Linked DNA regions of Homo sapiens. The protein of the gene in region 1 purifies or fractionates together with the protein of each later gene. This does not show direct contact. Each region holds a gene or a part of one and is shown on either strand. Other genes may lie near its edges.

Evidence for each region.
Region 2: the proteins of BHMT (region 1) and MTMR6 purify together in Homo sapiens (affinity purification with mass spectrometry; 2 studies listed by BioGRID and IntAct, with this or other methods). This does not show direct contact.

What each region holds. Positions count from the first base shown.
Region 1 is NC_000005.10:79,120,931-79,130,571, forward strand, and holds part of BHMT (betaine--homocysteine S-methyltransferase 1), read left to right. Parts: intron 1-287; coding exon 288-435; intron 436-5,115; coding exon 5,116-5,298; intron 5,299-6,824; coding exon 6,825-7,053; intron 7,054-9,641.
Region 2 is NC_000013.11:25,248,842-25,258,482, reverse strand, and holds part of MTMR6 (phosphatidylinositol-3,5-bisphosphate 3-phosphatase MTMR6), read left to right. Parts: intron 1-637; coding exon 638-747; intron 748-1,161; coding exon 1,162-1,287; intron 1,288-3,410; coding exon of another isoform or gene 3,411-3,461; exon of another isoform or gene 3,462-4,034; intron 4,035-4,048; coding exon 4,049-4,098; intron 4,099-4,518; coding exon 4,519-4,719; intron 4,720-6,498; coding exon 6,499-6,630; intron 6,631-6,707; coding exon 6,708-6,834; intron 6,835-8,990; coding exon 8,991-9,251; 3' UTR 9,252-9,641. UniProt on the Homo sapiens protein: Lipid phosphatase that specifically dephosphorylates the D-3 position of phosphatidylinositol 3-phosphate and phosphatidylinositol 3,5-bisphosphate, generating phosphatidylinositol and phosphatidylinositol 5-phosphate.

The DNA.
Region 1 (9,641 bases):
TCACGAGGTCAGGAGTTTGAGAACAGCCTGGCCAACATGGTGAAACCCCGTCTCTACTAAAAATACAAAAATTAGCCAGGCGTGGTGGCGGGCGCCTGTAATCCCAGCTACTTGGGAGGCGGAGGCAGGAGAATTGCTTGAAACTGGGAGGCAAATGTTGCAGTGAGCCGAAATCGCACCACAGCACTCCAGCCTGGGTGAAAGAGCAAAACTCCGTCTCAAAAAAAAAAAAAAAATTGTTTTGGGAGAAACGAGATTAAAAGTACTCTAACCTTAACTGATTCCAGTATTTTGAACACGTTGAAGAAGCTGTGTGGGCAGTTGAAACCTTGATAGCATCCGGTAAACCTGTGGCAGCAACCATGTGCATTGGCCCAGAAGGAGATTTGCATGGCGTGCCCCCCGGCGAGTGTGCAGTGCGCCTGGTGAAAGCAGGTGATGATAGATTTCAATCAGTTTGTGATTAGTAAGTCTTAAAAGAACACACTAGTGCACATCTGTCTACAAATCAGTGTATACTACTTTCGTTAACATAAAAACCATTAATTTATTTTTGTAAGAATATTGATATTATTGAATCCCAGAGGAAAAGTTTTAAAAATGGCTGGGCGCGGTGGCTGACGCCTGTAATCCCAGCACTTTGGGAGGCAGAGACGGGTGGATCATGAGGTCAGGAGATCGAGACCATCCCGGCTAACACAGTGAAACCCCACCTCTACTAAAAAATACAAAAAATTAGCCGGGACTGGTGGCGGGCGCCTGTAGTCCCAGCTACTCGGGAGGCTGAGGCAGGAGAATGGCGTGAACCCGGGAGGCGGAGCTTGCAGTGAGCCGAGATTGCGCCACTGCACTCCAGCCTGGGCGAAAGAGCGAGATTCCGTCTCAATAAAAAAAAAAAAAAAAAGAATATCCTCAGTCTATAGTTTCCAATCATCGAGAATGTTAATAGGGTTCTGTGGTTAAATACATTTAGAAAATGCTGTGTTAAACCAAATTAAGCAGATATCTTGTTTTGTTTTGTTTTTTGAGACGGAGTCTTGTCACACTGCAGCCCAGGCTGGAGTGCAATGGCGCAATCTTGGCTCACTGCAATCTCCGCCTCCCAGGTTCAAGCGATTCTCCTGCCTCAGCCTCCCGAGTAGCTGGGATTATGGGCACCCGCCACCATGCCTGGCTAATTTTTTGTATTTTTTAGTAGAGACGGGGTTTCACTATTTGGTCAGGCTGGTCTCGAACTCCTGACCTCGTGATCCACCCGCCTCGGCCTCCCAAAGTGCTGGGATTACAGGTGTGAGCCATTGCGCCCGGCCTTAGGCAGATATCTTTACTGTGGAACTTATCAATATCTTTGATATGTTCACATATATTCCTAGTCTCCAAGAAGGTGATGTGGTGAACAGCTACTTCCTAACTTAATTGATCATGGAACATTATTTTCATGGACCAAACCTTGGAAAACCCTGTGCTAAATTATAAAATTGTTGATGTCAGGAACAATGTCCTTTATTTCTACTTCTCTATAATCTCTTGCAAGGAGGCTTACACCTAAAAGACATCCAATAAATAGCCAACATATTATTAATTTATTAATATAATGAAGTTAATTAAGCAAGGAAAGAGAAACTCTGGCAGCACAACATCCAAAAAAAAAGGGTAGCCAAAAATCTTCAACAGCTTATAGCTTAGTTGATATCAATGATCTTCCCACTTGGTTCCAGACTTGGATATTGTGGATATATATACTTGTGAGTATATGTATACACAATCTGATGAATATATATATATAAAATATATAAGTATATGTATATATACACACACATATTCTGGCTACATAGGTATACACACACATACAAGTATATTTACTTCTGGATACTTGCATATATCCACAATATTCAAATCTGGAGCCCAATGGGAAGGTCAGGGTAAGAGAGAGGAATATGGGAGAGACCTGGATATAGATGGTATTGAAAGCCTAGGACAGAAAAGGAAGTTTAAATGGGGAAGAAAAGATGAATCAGTGCAATCTTGGAACACTCCAGTTGAGAGTTTTAGCCTTGAGGAGGAGACAGCACAGAACATGAAGACATTTTTAAAAAGAATATTAAACAGGACATTTATTAAAATAATAAACCAGCAAAGTAGAAACAATACTTGGACAGTGTGTGGGAAGTTGCAGAAGCCAAGAGAAGGGGAGTGTCAATGAAGGAGGAAGTTGTCCACTAGGTTGCATACTGCTGAGAGCTTCAGTGAGATGAGAACAGAGAAGCAGCTGCTGGATTTGGCAAGGTTGAGGTCATTGGTAACCTTAACAAAAGCTGTTTCAGAGGAATGAAGGGGAGTGAGGCCTACTTGGAACAAGAATGAAGAGCAAACTGCAGACCCAGCCCAGCAACAGCAAAGACACCTGCCACTCACCACTGGATTCCATGGGTTGTGGCACCAGCTCTGCTGCTCCTGGGAGCTGAACACTGGGGTCACTCATCACTCATGCTGCATCCAGAAATAATCTCTCTTGCTCTTGTTCTTGGTATCTCTATATACAAAATACAAAATCCTAGGCCATGAGTCCATCCAAAAAAGTCCTTTTTGGTTGGTTGGTTGGTTGGTTGGTTGGTTCGTTGGTTGGTTGGTTGGTTTTGAGACAGAGTTTTTGCTCTGTTGCCCAGGCTGGAGTGCAATGGCACCGTCTTGGCTCACTGTAACCTCCACCTCCTGGGTTCAAGTGATTCTCCTGCCTCAGCCTCCCAAGTAGCTGGGATTACAGATGTGTACTACCACGTCCAGCTAATTTTTGTACTTTTAGTAGAGACGGGGTTTCACCATGTTGGCCAGGCTGGTCTTGAACTCCTGACCTCAGGTAATCCACCCGCCTCAGCCTCGCAAAGTGCTAAGATTACAGGCATGAGCTACTGCACCTGGCCCAAAAAAGTCCTTTTTGGGGGTGGAAACAATCTCAGAGTTCATCAACAGGTGAATGGATAAAACAAAATGTGGTGTATCCATACAATGAAATATCATGCAGCTATAAGAAGAAATGAAGTTCTCAAACATGCCATAACAGGGATGAACCTTGGAAACATCATGCTAAGTAAACTAAGCCACTCACAAAATGACAAATATCATATGATTTTGTTTATATGACATATCTAGAATGGGCAAATCCACAGAGACAGAAAGTAGATTTGAGGTTACCAGGGGCTAGCAGAAGGGGAAAATAAGGAGTTAGTTCTTAATGGGTAGAGTTTCTCTTTGGGGTATCGAAAAAATGTGGAAATAGTGATAATGGTTGCACAACATTGTGAATATAATTAATGCCACTTAAAAATGGCTAAAATGCGCCAGATGCAGGGGCTCATGCCTACAATCCCAGCACTTTGGGAGGCAAAGGTGTGAGGATCGCTTGAGGCCAGAAGTTCAAGACCAGCCTGGGCAACATAATGAGGCCTTGTCTCTACAAAAAAATAAAATTTTTTAAAAAGGTTAAAATGCCCAGTTTTACATGATATATATTTTACCACCATTTTTAAAATGCAAAAAAAAAAAAAGGAAAGAAAAGTCCTATTTGGGAATTCCTCCCACTTTGAGAGGAGAGAGTAAAAGAATTATAATGTCATAATGCCTTCTCAAATCTTCTGGAGGAGGAAACTTCCAAAATCATGTCTAGTGATTGCCATGGTAAATCATCTGTGGTCCAAATATAGTTAAGAACATAATGACTATAAAGAAAGTTTTTGAAGAAAATGAAATATCTAAAACATAGTTTGTTCTCACTAAATCAAACTTCACAGCACCAAATTTTACAAGAATACTGTAGGAAGACAATCCCATATAGTTGTGAGTCTGGGGAGGCTGAAATGTAAATTAAAAGCTTGTCAAAATGATTGATAGGCTAGTAACCACATTGAGTAGCTGAAGTCAAAGGATTTTTGAGATTCTTTTTCCCCAAACTATTAATCCTAGACACAAAATTCCTTCTAGCAAACACGTGTCTAAAAAACTTTTTTCTAAATTACATTCTGCTGCTGTGCCCAAGAAGGCTAATGAACTTATTAAGTTGGCCTGGTGAAAAGGAATATTTATTTACACCTCAAGCAAGCAGTATGGTAAACACAGGTGTAGTCTAGCAGCTGGGAGTGTTGAAAAATTATTGTGCTTGCAACATAATGTCCAACGTTGAAAGTTTGACTACTAAAATTTGAAGTTTAAAAAAATTCTAATAATTTTTTTTTGAAAAAAGATGGATAGGGCTGGGCATGGTGGCTCACACCTGTAATCCCAGCACTTTGTGAGGCTGAGCTGGGCGGATCACAAGGTCAGGAGATGGAGACCATCCTGGCCAACATGGTGAAACCCTGTCTCCACTAAAAACACAAAAATTAGCCTGTCGTGGTGGTGTGCGCCTATAGTCCCAGCTACTCAGGAGGCTGAGGCAGGAGAATCACTTGAACCCAGGAAGCAGAGGCTGTGGTGAGCTGAGATCGTGCCACTGCACTCCAGCCTGGGCAACAGAGCAAGAGTCTGTGTCTCAGAAAAAAAAAAAAAAAAAAAGAGATGGACAGCCAAATGTGCACAAATTACACTTCAATTATACCAGACTCTTCAAAGCACTTTCACAGAAAGCACTTCCTGCCTGCTAGTAATCATTCTCACTCAAAGGTAAGAGGTTTGTGGGGAATGAGGACCTAATGCTATGCTTCCAGTTCATCATTCCAATTAAAAGCTTCCTGCTGGGTGTGGTGGCTCATGCCTGTAATCCCAGCAGTCTGGGAAGCTGTTGGATCACTTGAGCTCAGGAGTTCGAGACCAGCCTGGGCAACATGGCGAAACCCCATATCTATAAAAAAACAAACAAACAAACAAAAATTAGCCAGACGTGGTGGCACACACTTGTAGTCACAGCAACTTGGGAGGCTGAGGTGGGAGGATTGCTTGATCACTTGAGGTGGAGACTGCAGTGAGCTGAGATCACGCTACTGCACTCCAGCCTGGGCAACAGAGTGAGATTGTGTCTCAAAAAATGAAAAAAGAACTTCCTGATTCCTGATGAAGAGAGGAGAGCTGGCCCTGCTGGTTTCTGGTGCATCCCTAAGTCTATCATGTTCTTCCCACTCACAGGAGCATCCATCATTGGTGTGAACTGCCACTTTGACCCCACCATTAGTTTAAAAACAGTGAAGCTCATGAAGGAGGGCTTGGAGGCTGCCCGACTGAAAGCTCACCTGATGAGCCAGCCCTTGGCTTACCACACTCCTGACTGCAACAAGCAGGGATTCATCGATCTCCCAGAATTCCCATTTGGTAAGACCAACATTTGATGAATCATCTCAATATCTTCATTTGATATGCATATAAACTCAAGTAAATCTATACCCAGAGATCTTTTGTCATAGTGAAGAGATGGCTTGGTGTCTCCTCATGTCTTGTCCCTGGTTTCTGTCCCTGCAGCCAAAAGCCCCTTCGTATTAGAGAAGAGCAGAAGGAAAGGATGGTCCCAGCTAGCAAAAAAGATCTCTGAATTTAAATATAAAATCTAAGGTGAATCAGCATCTAAACAGACAACTAGTGAGTCATACTTTGGGGTTGGTGAGGATGCCCTTCATGGGAGAATCAACAGATATTTAGTTCTAGTTCCAGCTCTGTTGCTAAGTCCTGTCACCTTAGGAAAATCTTTAAATTCCTCTAGCTCTCAAATTCTTTATTGGGAAAATAAGATCAGACCAGTTATCTCTAAGGTCCTTTTCTCCAATTTTTAATATGGCTCAGCTACTCCAGAGTTTTGGGATTGCAGGCAAGATACCATCATCGAGTGACTGTATAACAAGTTTTAATGAAGAGACCAAGCAGATGAAGTGAGGGGATACTTGCAGTCCAGGCAGAAGGAAAAACTTTCCCAGCATGATTGGGAAGAGCGGGTGGGTTGATCTCACAAATTAAGCCAGAGTGGTCAGCAGGGGCAGAGCATGCCCAGCCTCCTATTTCCTTCTAAGGTCTTTACACCCTATCCTATATTTTATAGGGACCCTTAGACAAGTAAGATATTATAAAATACAATCACTCTGGAGGAGCCACAGAGGAAGAAAGGCAAGGCATTTGTGTTACTTACTGCTGTATAACACATTAAATTAATGCAAAATGTAGTGGCTTGAAAAACCACTTCTTATCTCACAGTTTCTCCAGGTCAAGAATTCAGGGATAGCATAACTAGGTGGTTTTGGTTCAGGGTCTCCTAAGAGGTTGGAGTCCGGATATTTGCCAGGGCTATTATCACCTGAAGGCCTGTTGGGAGCTGGGGGATCTACTTCCTAGCTCACTTAATTGGTTTTTGGGAGTTAGTGTCAGTTTCTTGCTGTCTGTTGACTGGGGGCCTCAGTTCCTCAGCTCATGGGCCTTTTCACTGTGATGCTAGAAAACATGCTTGAAACATGTGATGCTTGCAACATGGCAGCTGGCTTTCCCCAGGGTGAGTGCTCCAAGAAAGTGCAAGGCAGAAACCATGATGTTTTGTATAGCCTAGACTCTGAAGTCACATGCCAGTTCTGCCATATTCTATGGATCTCACAGACCAGCCCTGTTATAATGCAAGAGGGGACTGCACAAGAAGAAAAACATCAAAGGGCAGGGGTCATTTGGAACCTCCTGAAGGCTGGATACCACAGCATGTAAAAGTGAACATACAACACAAAGTAGCAAAGTTTTTTCTTAAATGTAAAAATTGAATATTGAAAACAATTCATTTATTGAAAATTACATACTTGTAGCTACTTATCTTGAATTTTTATGAAAAGAATGTATAATGCCTAATGGCATAATGCCACTTATTACAGGACTGGAACCCAGAGTTGCCACCAGATGGGATATTCAAAAATACGCCAGAGAGGCCTACAACCTGGGGGTCAGGTACATTGGCGGGTGCTGTGGATTTGAGCCCTACCACATCAGGGCAATTGCAGAGGAGCTGGCCCCAGAAAGGGGCTTTTTGCCACCAGCTTCAGAAAAACATGGCAGCTGGGGAAGTGGTTTGGACATGCACACCAAACCCTGGGTTAGAGCAAGGTAAGCATCTTTTTACTAACCCAAACTAATTTAGATTATGAATATGTTCAAGTGAGGCCATTTAGAAGACTGCAGCAAATTTGTTGTGTGATGATGAAGAATCAGTCATCCCCAAATTCTCTCCCAGAGATGTTTACAAAGCATCCTTATTAGGTGATTTCTGGAGATTGTTTTAAGAATATAGAACGTATTTGACCTGATTTTGGATTTTGAAAAGAAAAAGAAAAATTTTTTTAAAAATTGTTTTTAAATATAGGCTGGGTGCGGTGGCTCGCGCCTGTAATCCCAGCACTTTGGGAGGCCAAGGTAGGAGGATTACTTGATCTCGGGAGTTTGAGACCAGCATGGGCAAGATGGCAAAACTCCATCTCTACTAAAAATACAAAAAAAAAAAAAATTAGCTGGGCATAGTGGTGCATGCCTGTAATCACAGCTACTTGGGAGGCTGAGGCACAAGAATTGCTTGAACCCGGGAGGCAGAGGTTGCAGTGAGCCAAGATCACGCCACTGCACTCCAGTTTGGGCAACAGAGTGAGACCCTGTTTTAAAAAAAAAAAAAAAAAAGAATATAGCATGTAAATAAACGTAAGTGGCAATGAAATGTGATTTTGTGCTCTAGTAAAGCACCATTAGTGTGGTGCACAATACTCTTAAATTGCATTGATTTTTAAGAGTTAAGGACCACTTAAGTATAGCTAATACTGATTGTTCTATATCAAGCATGATTTTCAGAGCTGGGAATACGGTGGCAAATAAGACAGGCAAGGTCTTTGCCCTCAGAGTTTACATTCCAATGGGGAAGATGAATAATACACTAGTAAAAAAAAATGTATGTCAGGCACTGGGAAGGGCAGTAGGAATATAGAAATGAGAAGCCGTGGATTAGAGACTCACAGTCTACTGGGTAAAAGAATACGAAAGCCAATGTATTATACTGTGGTAGCTGCTTTAGTAGATGTATGGATAGAAAAGTAACAAGAGAAGAGAATGACTATCTCTGCCTAACAGAAAGATATTTTAAAAGAAGGGTTTTGGGGCTGGATTTTGAAGGCTCAATAGGCTCCTACCATATAGAGAACTAGGAAGCGGGTGGAGGACAGGTGCTCCAAGGAGAGGTAGCAGTTCCACTCTGTTCAGCAGCTATTAACAGAGCACAGCTATCTGTCAGATGCTGTTGTGGATGCTGAGGTAGCAAGCTAAACAAGGAGCTAGCAATCTAGCAGGCAGAACGATAAGCAGGTAATGTCCAATGAGTATAGTAAGTCCAAGGATGAAGATGTGCATAGGTGTGCAGGGTCTGAGCTAATGTCCCAAGGGGCAAAAGGCAGAGAGAGGGTGAATGAAGGATTTCTAAGAAAGCTGATGCCTGAGTTGAATTCTGCGAGAGGAATTACATTGCTAGAGGAACAGCCCTCAGGAAAGCACTGAGAAGTGGAAAGAGAATGACACATTGAGAAACTGGAAGTTTGAGAATAGCAGAGACAGAATTTGGTGAAAGACACCTCCCAGGAGGAGGAGGCAGCCTCTTTATTCATGCTCAGGAGTTATGTAGGACCCCATCCCAAAGGCAAAGAGGAGCCTGGGTGGTCTCAGGTAGCCCAGGGCAAGGTTAGATTAGCAAGTTAGCAAGTTGTAATCGCCATGTGAGGAAGACTTGCTAGGAGGGACAGCAGACAGGTTGAGGCCTGAGCTAGAAGGAAGCAAAGGAAATAGAAGGGCAGAAGTGGAGCCTGCAGAGTGAGAGGTGCAGAAGTTATCCAGGGTTTGGGGAAGAATAACCAAGGTGAACTCAGCTGGCTCATGAGGATGTGAGGAAGGACAGGTAGTGTAAGTGGAATAGACAGTACTCCTATCCCAAATTTTCCCTGTACATATATTAAAAGAAGAAATTCAAGGTGGGCATAGTGACTCACACCTGTAATCCCAGCACTTTGGGAAGCTGAGGCAGGCGAATCACTTGAGCTCAGGAGTTTGAGACCAGCCTGGGCAACATGGCGAAACCCTGTCTCTACAAAAAGTACAAAAATTAGCTGTACTAATTTTGTACCTATGTGGTGGCATAGGCCTATAATCCCAGCTACTCAAAAGGCTGAGGCAGAAGAATCACTTGAACCTGGGAGGCGGGGGTTGCAGTGAGCCAAGATCGTACCACTGCACTCCAGACAGGGTGACAGAGTAAGACCCTGTCTCAAAAAAGAAATTCAAAGTAACTTTAGACTTACAGATTGAGGGGAGGGGGTGGAATTTTTAGTCCAGATTAATGTGTGTTTTAATGGATGCACTCTGAGAATCCAAAGATGGCTCCCTCAATGTGCACTCATAACAGAACAAGAAATCACATCAGTTTTTACATCAAAGGGCACCTTCTATGACAAAAACCATTGTTAATGAGGCAGATGCCTCTGGAGGAAACACTGTAAAAAGCCTTCCAGCAGAATGGACCGCTTCCCAGTCCCTCAACTGCTTCTGATGTTTCTTCTCATCTACAAAAGTAAAATACAGTGTACAGTAACCTTTTAATCAAAACACAGCATCATGGATGGAGACAAAGCCTGTTGCTGATGGTTGTTGCTGTTCAGCAGCTGACA
Region 2 (9,641 bases), on another chromosome or scaffold:
CAGTGGTCACATTTTAAAAAGTAAAAAGAAACAAGTGAAATTAATTTTAATAATATCCTTACTTAATATATTATAAACATTATTTTAACATGTAGTCAATATAAAAAAAATCAGTAATGAGATATTTTTCTTTTCATCAACTCTTAGAAATCAGGCATGTATTTTACACTTACTACACATCTGAGTTTGGACAAGCCATATTTCAAATGTTTAGTAGCCGTATTTGGTTAGTGGCTGCTGTATTAGACAGTACAATTCTAATGGTTTTGCAAAAAAAATGTTATTAGATAGATATTCTTGAGTAGTCAGTACAATAAATACTAATTTGTAGTAATGTTCATTTAAATATTCCAGTCATAGTATAGAATTTAAAAAATTAAAATATAAGATTATTTTTAGTTAGATGCTTGTGCTACAATGTTTTTTAAGAGATTGGAGCATTTTTGTAAGCACGGGAATAATAGAAAAATATATCCAAGAATCAGTTATTGAGCTTTTAATAGCATCTTTTCATTTATAGAGTCTTGCCTGTTTATTTTGTCTTCTTTCTTCATTCACTTATCTAGAGAGATCTTGAAAAAAGAAATGCAGAAACTCTAGCCATATTCTAATTGAAATATTTTTATACCTCTTTCAGTCAATGGCACTAAAGGGCTTTCTGTCAATGATTTCTACTCCGGTTTGGAGAGCTCGGGATGGCTTCGCCATATCAAAGCTGTTATGGATGCTGCAATCTTCTTGGCCAAAGTAATACTTTATCTTTCATATTTGGTCTTGGGGTCTATAATGATTGGGAAGGAGTAGATGTATTCTGTTGGGGGCTGGTATCTATTCATCAGATAACTTTTATTATTTTTTACCTCTTTAATGAGCTTCACTTTATTTTCAGCCTTAAAAATATCATGTAGCACTTAATGTAGAAACTTAAAAAGATGCTCCTAAATACTTTGAAGTGGCATTTTTTCTTTGTTTTTTTTTTGTTTGTTTGCTTGTGTTTTTGTTGTTACCATATTTTGTTGTGTATTTTGGAAATTATGCTGTGACATTATCATTGCAGGCATAGCACTTCCTTGTAACACAATACCTGCTAGTATGATTTTCAAGTAGAATTTATTGGTTTACCTTAAAGTACGCTAGAATGTATGTGATCTTTCTTTTCAGGCAATAACAGTTGAAAATGCAAGTGTGTTGGTGCATTGTTCCGATGGTTGGGATAGGACTTCCCAGGTTTGTTCCCTGGGTTCTCTTTTATTGGATTCCTACTACAGGACAATCAAAGGATTCATGGTAAGGATTTATTTGGTTAGACCAATGGTTCTTAAGTAGGAGTAATTTTATGTTCCTCCAGAGGACATTTGGCAATGTTGGAGACAGTTTTGCACTAAAGGAAATGATGAGACTGGCATCCGTGGGAGTGGCCAGGGATATTGCTAACTAAACATTTTATAATGCACAAAATTTTTGCTGGGGGGTCAGCCTCACAGCAAAGACTGATCTGGCCTGTAATGTCAGTACTGTCGAGGTTGAAAAACCTTGAATTAGACTTATTTCCATTTGTGCTAACACTGACAATAAGCTTTAGATTTAAATAATTTTTTTTCCTAAAATGTTGCAATGGAAATATTCAGTATTTTCTCCCTCATTTTTATCTAACAAATGTAAATAATGTAATAAAACAATGCACAAATAAGAGTACTTAAAATTAAATTCTGAAGGAAACCTTCTATTTAAAACACCTGCATTAGTAAGTGTAATAACATATTAGGCATGTTTTATATCTGAAGATAAAATTTCTAGTTGAATAGATTTTCTCCTTTGTGAAGATAAAGACCTAGTTCCTTTTTTTTGTTTCTTTGCTTTTAAAGGTATGATCAGATTTTTATTTGCTTGCTTTTAAACGTGTGAGCAGATTAACTTATGTTTTCAAAATTTACATCTTAACTCATGGTAAATTAAATGAAGAGATGTTAGAAAATTTTCATTAGTCTTGAATTATTAAATACAGTGCCATCTTAAAGCAAAGGAAGATTTAAAATCACCAGTCCCTTTTCAGCACCGCTATTTTTTGCTGCTAACATACCGACTCTGGGACAGGCCAAGCGGGAGTGCTGCTAATAAGAAAATAATGCTCAGCTTACCTTGAGAGTGTACGATAAGGAATATTTTCTTTGCCATGTTTGGCTTTAATTATTTGTTAGACATCCAAATGAAATCATGTAATAAATGGGGATGATGTGAGAGCTTCCCAGGCAATAGGAACAGTGTAAATCAAAGCATAACCTCTTTGGGTGACTGCAGGTAATGTGTGATGGATGGAGTTCAGAGTGAGTATTAGAATAGGGGGCTTGGAGGCAGAGGAATAGAGTGGGGTCAGGGCCTGAGAAAGAGAAGGCTGGAATGGGGCTTTCCCCTCTTTGGATAATGGGAGCTATTAAAGAGTTTTAAACAAGCAAACAGTAACTTGATTAGATGTGCTTTTTAAAAAGGTGGCTTGGTATCTTGAAGGCCAAAGGGAGTGGGAATGGAGGCTAGGAGGCGAGTGTAGACACTATTATGATAACTTATGAGACAAAAGTTTTTAATTTTACCAAACTAAAATAGTAACACACAAGTGAAGGGGGAGGTGATGGGTTCCAGGGATGTTTAGAGAGTAGAGTCAGTGGCTGGGCGCAGTGGCTCACGCCTGTAATCCCAGCACTTTGGGAGGCCAAGGCGGGTGGATCATGAGGTCAGGAATTCGAGACCAGCCTGGCCAATATGGTGAAACCCTGTCTCTGCTAAAAATACAAAAATTAGCCGGGCATGGTGATGTGTACCTATAATCCCAGCTACTCAGGAGGCTGAGGCAGAAGAATTACTTGAACCCAGGAGGCGGAGGTTGCAGTGAGCCAAGATTGCGCCACTGCACTCCAGCCTGGGCAACAGAGTGAGACCCTGTCTCAAAAAAAAAAGAAAGTAGAGTCAGGAAGAATTGATCATGGATTGGATGTGGGATAGAAGAGAGGAGTCTTCCTCTGGGATGATTTCCAAGTTTCTGAATTAGGTGCCAGGATGGATGGTGCTGCTCTCTGGCTCTTCACTGAGATAAGCCAAAGAATACATTTAGTGAGAAAGATATTGAGTTATGCTTTAAACATGGTTTTGTAGAAGAATGGCAGAGAGACCAGAATAAAATCTGTGGCTCCAGCCACAAGGTCACACAAAGTGGTGAAGCTGGGATTGGAGCCTGTGCCTGAGCTCCAGCGACTACATCCTCAGCCACATCAGTGTATAGCCTTCTGCGGAAAGCAGAGGCTTGAGACAAAATCAGAGAAGCTAAAACCAGCAGTTTTGACACTATGAAAATAATGTGCTTGGTGACTGTATAGTTAAGTGATAAAGTGTACTAAATACTACAAATATGTGTTTAGATTAGACTGAAAAAGTTAGAAATCTGTTTTTACAGTGGAGTGGGTAAGTAGAGAAGCTGTGGCAAGGAAAACATAAAGTCAGTCCATTCAAGAGGATAGATGTTAACACTTGGATCTGAACATGAACTCAAGTAAGATGATTTGATTAAAATAATTGGTCTTTTTATCATTAGTTTTTTTTTCTTAAAAAAAGTAGTATATAAATAATATAAAAAATGTACAAGTAAGCCAAAAGTTTTAAAATATCCACCTCAGTCTACCACCTAGAGTTATCCTTTGTTAGCAGTTTTGGTTTACATTTTTCTAGCCTTTTTCCTATGATATATCATCTTCATACATACAAAAACTTAAATGTAATACTGCTTTATAACATGTACTTTTCACTTAAAATGTAATAAATTCAACGGAAATAATTTAAGTCACGAAACTACTCTATTTCTTTTTATGCATTTTTATTCTTCTTTAACCCCACCTCGAATCAAGGTTTTGGCATTCTTTTGCCTGTGGTTTTTTGTGCTGTTTTGTTTATAAGTTAAAAGTGTACAGTAAATACTGTTTTTAAACTAATAAGATTTAATCCAGCCTAAACAAAATAATTGAAAGTAGTCAGAAAGTGAATTTTACTTTTTCTCATTAAGGTTTTAATAGAAAAGGATTGGATCTCTTTTGGACATAAATTTTCAGAGAGGTGAGTCACAGTTACACAGTCATATATTTTATAAAATTAGTAAACCAAGTTTAGAATGCCAAAATGTTTCTGTTCCTTATGAACTCACATGCGTGATGGGAGGTAAGAGTGTCATGGTTTTTACTGTATTTTACGTAAAGACATTTAATTTTTTTCTGTAATTTCTTTCAATTCTAGTACGCTTGTTAATTTTCATGACTATTTATTACCTTCCTTTTGGGCTGCATTTTATTTAGAGATGGTAACAGATCCTTTAAAGCTGTGGTTTAAAAACTCATAAATGGTTTCAATAAAAATTCTAGTTTTGCATGCTAATGTAACAGTGCTTTAGGAATATTTTTGTATGTTTAAGATTAACAATACCTGAACAATGGACCTTTCAGAGGTGTTTTTAAAAGCTTATACTTTCTGTGGGGTTAGGTGTGGCCAGTTGGATGGTGACCCAAAGGAAGTCTCACCAGTGTTTACTCAGTTCTTGGAATGTGTGTGGCATTTGACCGAACAGTTTCCACAAGCCTTTGAATTCAGTGAAGCATTTCTTCTTCAGATCCATGAGCATATTCATTCATGCCAGTTTGGAAACTTCCTTGGAAATTGTCAGAAGGAAAGAGAAGAGCTCAAGTAAGATGATTCAATTAAAAGAGTCTCCTTTTCCCCCTACTTAGCCGAGGTCTAACAAAAATCATGTTTGAAACTTAATAAAATATCTTGACAATTTGAAAGTTTATTGTAAAGATTTTATTTTTTGTATTTCTAAAGCTGAGTACCCTTCTAATATTCCCCCACCTTTCAGCTAATAGTAAAAGCACATTATAAAATGTGTTTTGAAGTGTAGCATACATACAGAAAAGTACATAGAGCGTTAAGTGTGAAGCTCAGTAAATCTTACCAAACTCACACACCTATGTAACCAGCACCCAGAATATGAAATGTTGTCAACACCCTGGAAAGTCTCCTCATGCTTCTTTTCGGTCTGCATTTATATATTTTAGAACAGAGAAATCCTTATGCTGTTTAATTTCCCAGAATGTATCAGTCGCTAGTTTTAAAGTGTAAAATATTTTAAACTGTTGGTTTGTTTTAAGATAGGATGGAGCCTTATAGCTCTCCCCACATTTCTAAACAGACAGTTCTTTGGGGAAAATAAATCTAGCTATGTTGGCTGCAGCGTGTCCGTCCTTGAGTAGGGTCTCAGAAAAGCCCTGAGACACTACTTGACCCTAGTTCATGTTATTTCCTGACCAGTCTTCGGGGATAGGGGTTTTTGCCTAAATTTTGCTGTAAGGAAGATCTCTGGAGTAGGTCTTAGAGGTCCTATGTATATTGTTTTAGGTTGGGCTTCTGAGTTTGGATTTCTTTATTGCCTCTTACAGTAGGCAATAAAGAGCACTTAACAGACTTTTGAACATCCAAGGGACATATTAAGGAAGCTAAATCTGGTAGTATTTGAAGATAGCCACATGCTCACACTCCCAACAGAGTAAACAGCAGAACTGAGAGCATGTGGAAAATTCTAAAAATGCGTAAAGGGAATAAAAAGTGAATAGAGAATGGTGGAGATGAACAATCAAAGAACATTGAGGCTTTAGCTCTATGTTACAGTGATTCAAAATAGTTTATTATAATTTGGAGCACAGAGGTAACTCTTTTCCTGGAGTACAGAGCTATTTTAGGAAAAACTATTCTTAATTAGTGCCAAACATTCTCAAAAATGGAAAGATGGAAGTAAAAGTAGATATTTCCTAGTAGTTTTTCTCCAAGACACACCTATGGGTCATCTTAGGAGTTATGGAAAAATCAGGAGATTTTCCACTTTCCCCCTGGATACCTACATTATGTTTACTTGGTAAATGTCCAGTCTAAAACCATTCTTACCTTTGCCCAGCTACTCTTAGATTTGCAAAATAATTGGCTTTTAAAATTCTTGCATAACATCCTGATTTTGCCTGTTCCCTTTTTGTACCCACTCACACTTACGTGTGCTCCTGCCCTATGATACTCGCCACTACGGCCCAGACGTGGGGTTAAGAGAAGGCCAGACAGAAAGATGCATTAGTGTCTTGTTCTATGTGTATGTTTGTGGTGATTTGAAGTAGGTGGAACAGAGACCAAGTTTTTGAAATTGTGTGAGTTGAGAGGAATCCCTTAAAATATATGGTTGTGAGAGAAAATGTTATACCTGTGTTGTGTTCAAGAAACATGACTTTATTACCTAATTATGAATGAAAAAGGAGAATAGAGATAATACAGAATTCTGAGACAAGGTTAGACTGTGAATACAAGAAAAAACTAAAATTTAAATCTGCTTCGGAAGCCATCGCCTGATTTATAAAAATGAATATTACCATTACTACTTTGCATCTATAGGAAAGATCTCTGTGTTTTTCTCATTATATTAAGGTTGAAGGAGAAGACTTATTCCCTGTGGCCATTTCTTTTGGAAGACCAAAAGAAGTACTTAAATCCTCTCTACAGTTCCGAATCTCACAGATTTACAGTTTTGGAGCCAAATACAGTATCTTTCAATTTTAAGTAAGTTGACATCATTGGAGTATTTATACTTGAATTTTCTCAAACACAATTTATTGAAACTTTTTTTTGTCATAAAGGTTTTGGAGGAACATGTACCATCAATTTGATCGAACACTGCATCCTAGGCAGTCTGTATTTAATATAATTATGAATATGAATGAGCAAAATAAACAATTAGAGAAAGATATTAAAGACCTAGAATCTGTAAGTATTCTGAAGTATCTAATATATTTGGAATGTGAAATTAGTTTACGATTAGACTAATATTTGTATTGTTGGTGTAAATCAGCACATAAACTTCTGAAGTAAGCAGTTTCTTCAAAATCAGGTCATCCCTACTTTGATTGAATACGTTAGTTCGAATCACTTTCTTTGTATTTTAAAATACATTAAAATACCGGAAGTATATAGCATAACGTATAGATAAACATAATAACTATCTGTGTACCCACCAGCTAGCTTTTGTGGGATTTTAACATTTACTATATATGCCTCAGATCTTTCTTGTTCTTGTTTTAAGAAATAAAACATAGGCCGGGCGCAGTGGCTCACGCCTGTAATCCCAGCACTTTGGGAGGCCGAGGCGGGTGGATCACCAGGTCAGGAGAGTTTGAGACCAGCCTGGTCAGCACAGTGAAACCCCATCTCTACTAAAAAAATAACAAAAAAGTAGCCGGGCATGGTGGCGCATGCCTGTAATCCCAGCTACTTGGGAGGCTGAAGCAGGAGAATTGCTTGAACCTGGGAGGCGGAGGTTGCAGTGAGCCAAGATCATGCCTCTGCACTCCAGCCTGGGTGACAGAGCAAGACTCCATCTCAAAACAAAAACAAACAAAAAAAAAAGAAATAAAACATAGATCTATTTGAAGACCCTCTATACTCTTACCCAGTCTTCACCCATGTATCACAATTTATAATACTGTTTTTCTTGACTTAAAATATTTTTACTGTGTATTGAAAAAATACCAAAGACTATCTATAATGTTTGTATGAGTTGTAAAGGGAAACAGACAATGTATAGGCCAATATACCCTTCACTCTGCTTAAGAAACTGATGTTTTAAAACTATATAAAAGTTACCATACTGTTTATGTGCTTCATTTTGCTCAACAGTGTTTTGACATTTATCCATGTTGATACATGTAGCTTTTATTCATCTTTTTATTAGTAACTACTATATAACTTTATATTATATGAATATATCACAGTCTATCCATTCAGCTATGGATGAATATTTAAATTGTTTTCAGTTTTGGATTTCCATGATTACAAATGAAGTTAAATGACTTTCCATATTTGTTGGCCATTTGGTTTTCCTTTTCTGTGAATGGACTGTTCAAACCTTTGCTCATTTTTCTGTTGGCATATTTGCCTTTTTCTTAGTGATTTGTAAGAGTTGTTTATATGCCAGGCACTAATTCTTTGTTAGTTATATATATTACAAATGGTTTTGTCCAGCCTATTGTCTTTTCCACTTTATTTATGGTATGCTATATATAGATGTTTTGAATTTTCATGTCAAATTGCTCAATGTTTTATGCTTTCTGTGTGTGTCTTGTTTAACAAATCCCTCTCTACCCTAAGACTTTCCTATAATCTTTTTTCTGCCATCCTATATAAGCAAAAAGGATCAGTAAGTATATATATATTTTTTAAATCCTAGACAGTTATAACAGTAAGACTGTCTCATCTACCTCTCAGGCAGGAGTCTCCCTTAGTCATCTTTTAGATAAAGAGGTAATGACTGCTTGAGTAAATTGTAGAAGGATATGGTCAAGAGAGGCAAGTCCAGGATAATAGGTAATACAAGATTATCGGGACAGTCCAAGAATTTGGAGAGCATGATACTCTGCCACAGGACACTTTAAAAATCTTCTGTTAAAAAAGTAAAGTTCTGTTGTGTTTAAAGTCTGTTATTTTTACCTAACAAACCACTGTAGGAAAACCATGTAAGAAAAACTCTATATAGTCAGTGAGCCCTTTAGCTACACAAGTTTGTTTGTTGTGTTTTCAGGGTGAATGTTTCATACACATTTCTTTTATTATAAATGTTTACCTGTTATGCTTTCTAGGTAATATATGTCCATTTTAAGTGTGGAAGCCTAGTGATCGCCTGCAGTCAAGTCTTGCTGGATTGTTTGTTTAATAAATATAAAAACTAACAATTTTCCACAGCAAAAAATTGTACACAATTAGGATTTTCAACCATGTCATATGCATTAAATGTTTCTACTTTTTTGAGATTTAGTTTTGCATTATACATACAGAGAACATATTTTGCAAAAGCATGTTTTCTTTTTTCATGTAACATATTGTGGCTTATGCAATTAGTAATTTTTTCAAATTTGTGTTTGTTCTAGAAAATTAAACAACGCAAAAATAAGCAAACAGATGGCATCCTCACCAAGGAATTGTTACATTCAGTTCATCCTGAATCACCTAACCTCAAAACTTCCCTGTGTTTTAAAGAGCAGACTCTGCTACCCGTAAATGATGCTCTTCGAACTATAGAGGGCAGCAGCCCGGCAGATAATCGTTATAGTGAATATGCAGAAGAGTTTTCTAAATCAGAACCTGCTGTGGTCAGCTTAGAGTATGGTGTGGCAAGAATGACTTGTTAGACTCATAGAGTTTTTTCTGCAATGATTGCAGTACAAGAAAAGGATTATTGTGAGGATGGTCTGTAAGCATAACCAAAAGGAATTTGTCTAATAACAATTTTAGGGTTTAACAGTAGGCTAATAGTTGAAGGAAGGATAATAACTACCCTTGTGAGAGAAATAAGTCATTTTAATTGCATTTCCAGCAAGGAATGACATTCAGTTCTGTAAGAAATGAGTGGTATTTGATGTATTTACTCAAAACACAATTTGCACTGTACACTAGTGAATTGACGTTTATGATTTATGTTAATTCAGCCAAACATAAATAACCTTCCTTAAGTACAATTTAACTTCAAGAAAACAAAATTTGACAACATAGTTTCTTAATAAATGATATGGCATGTACTT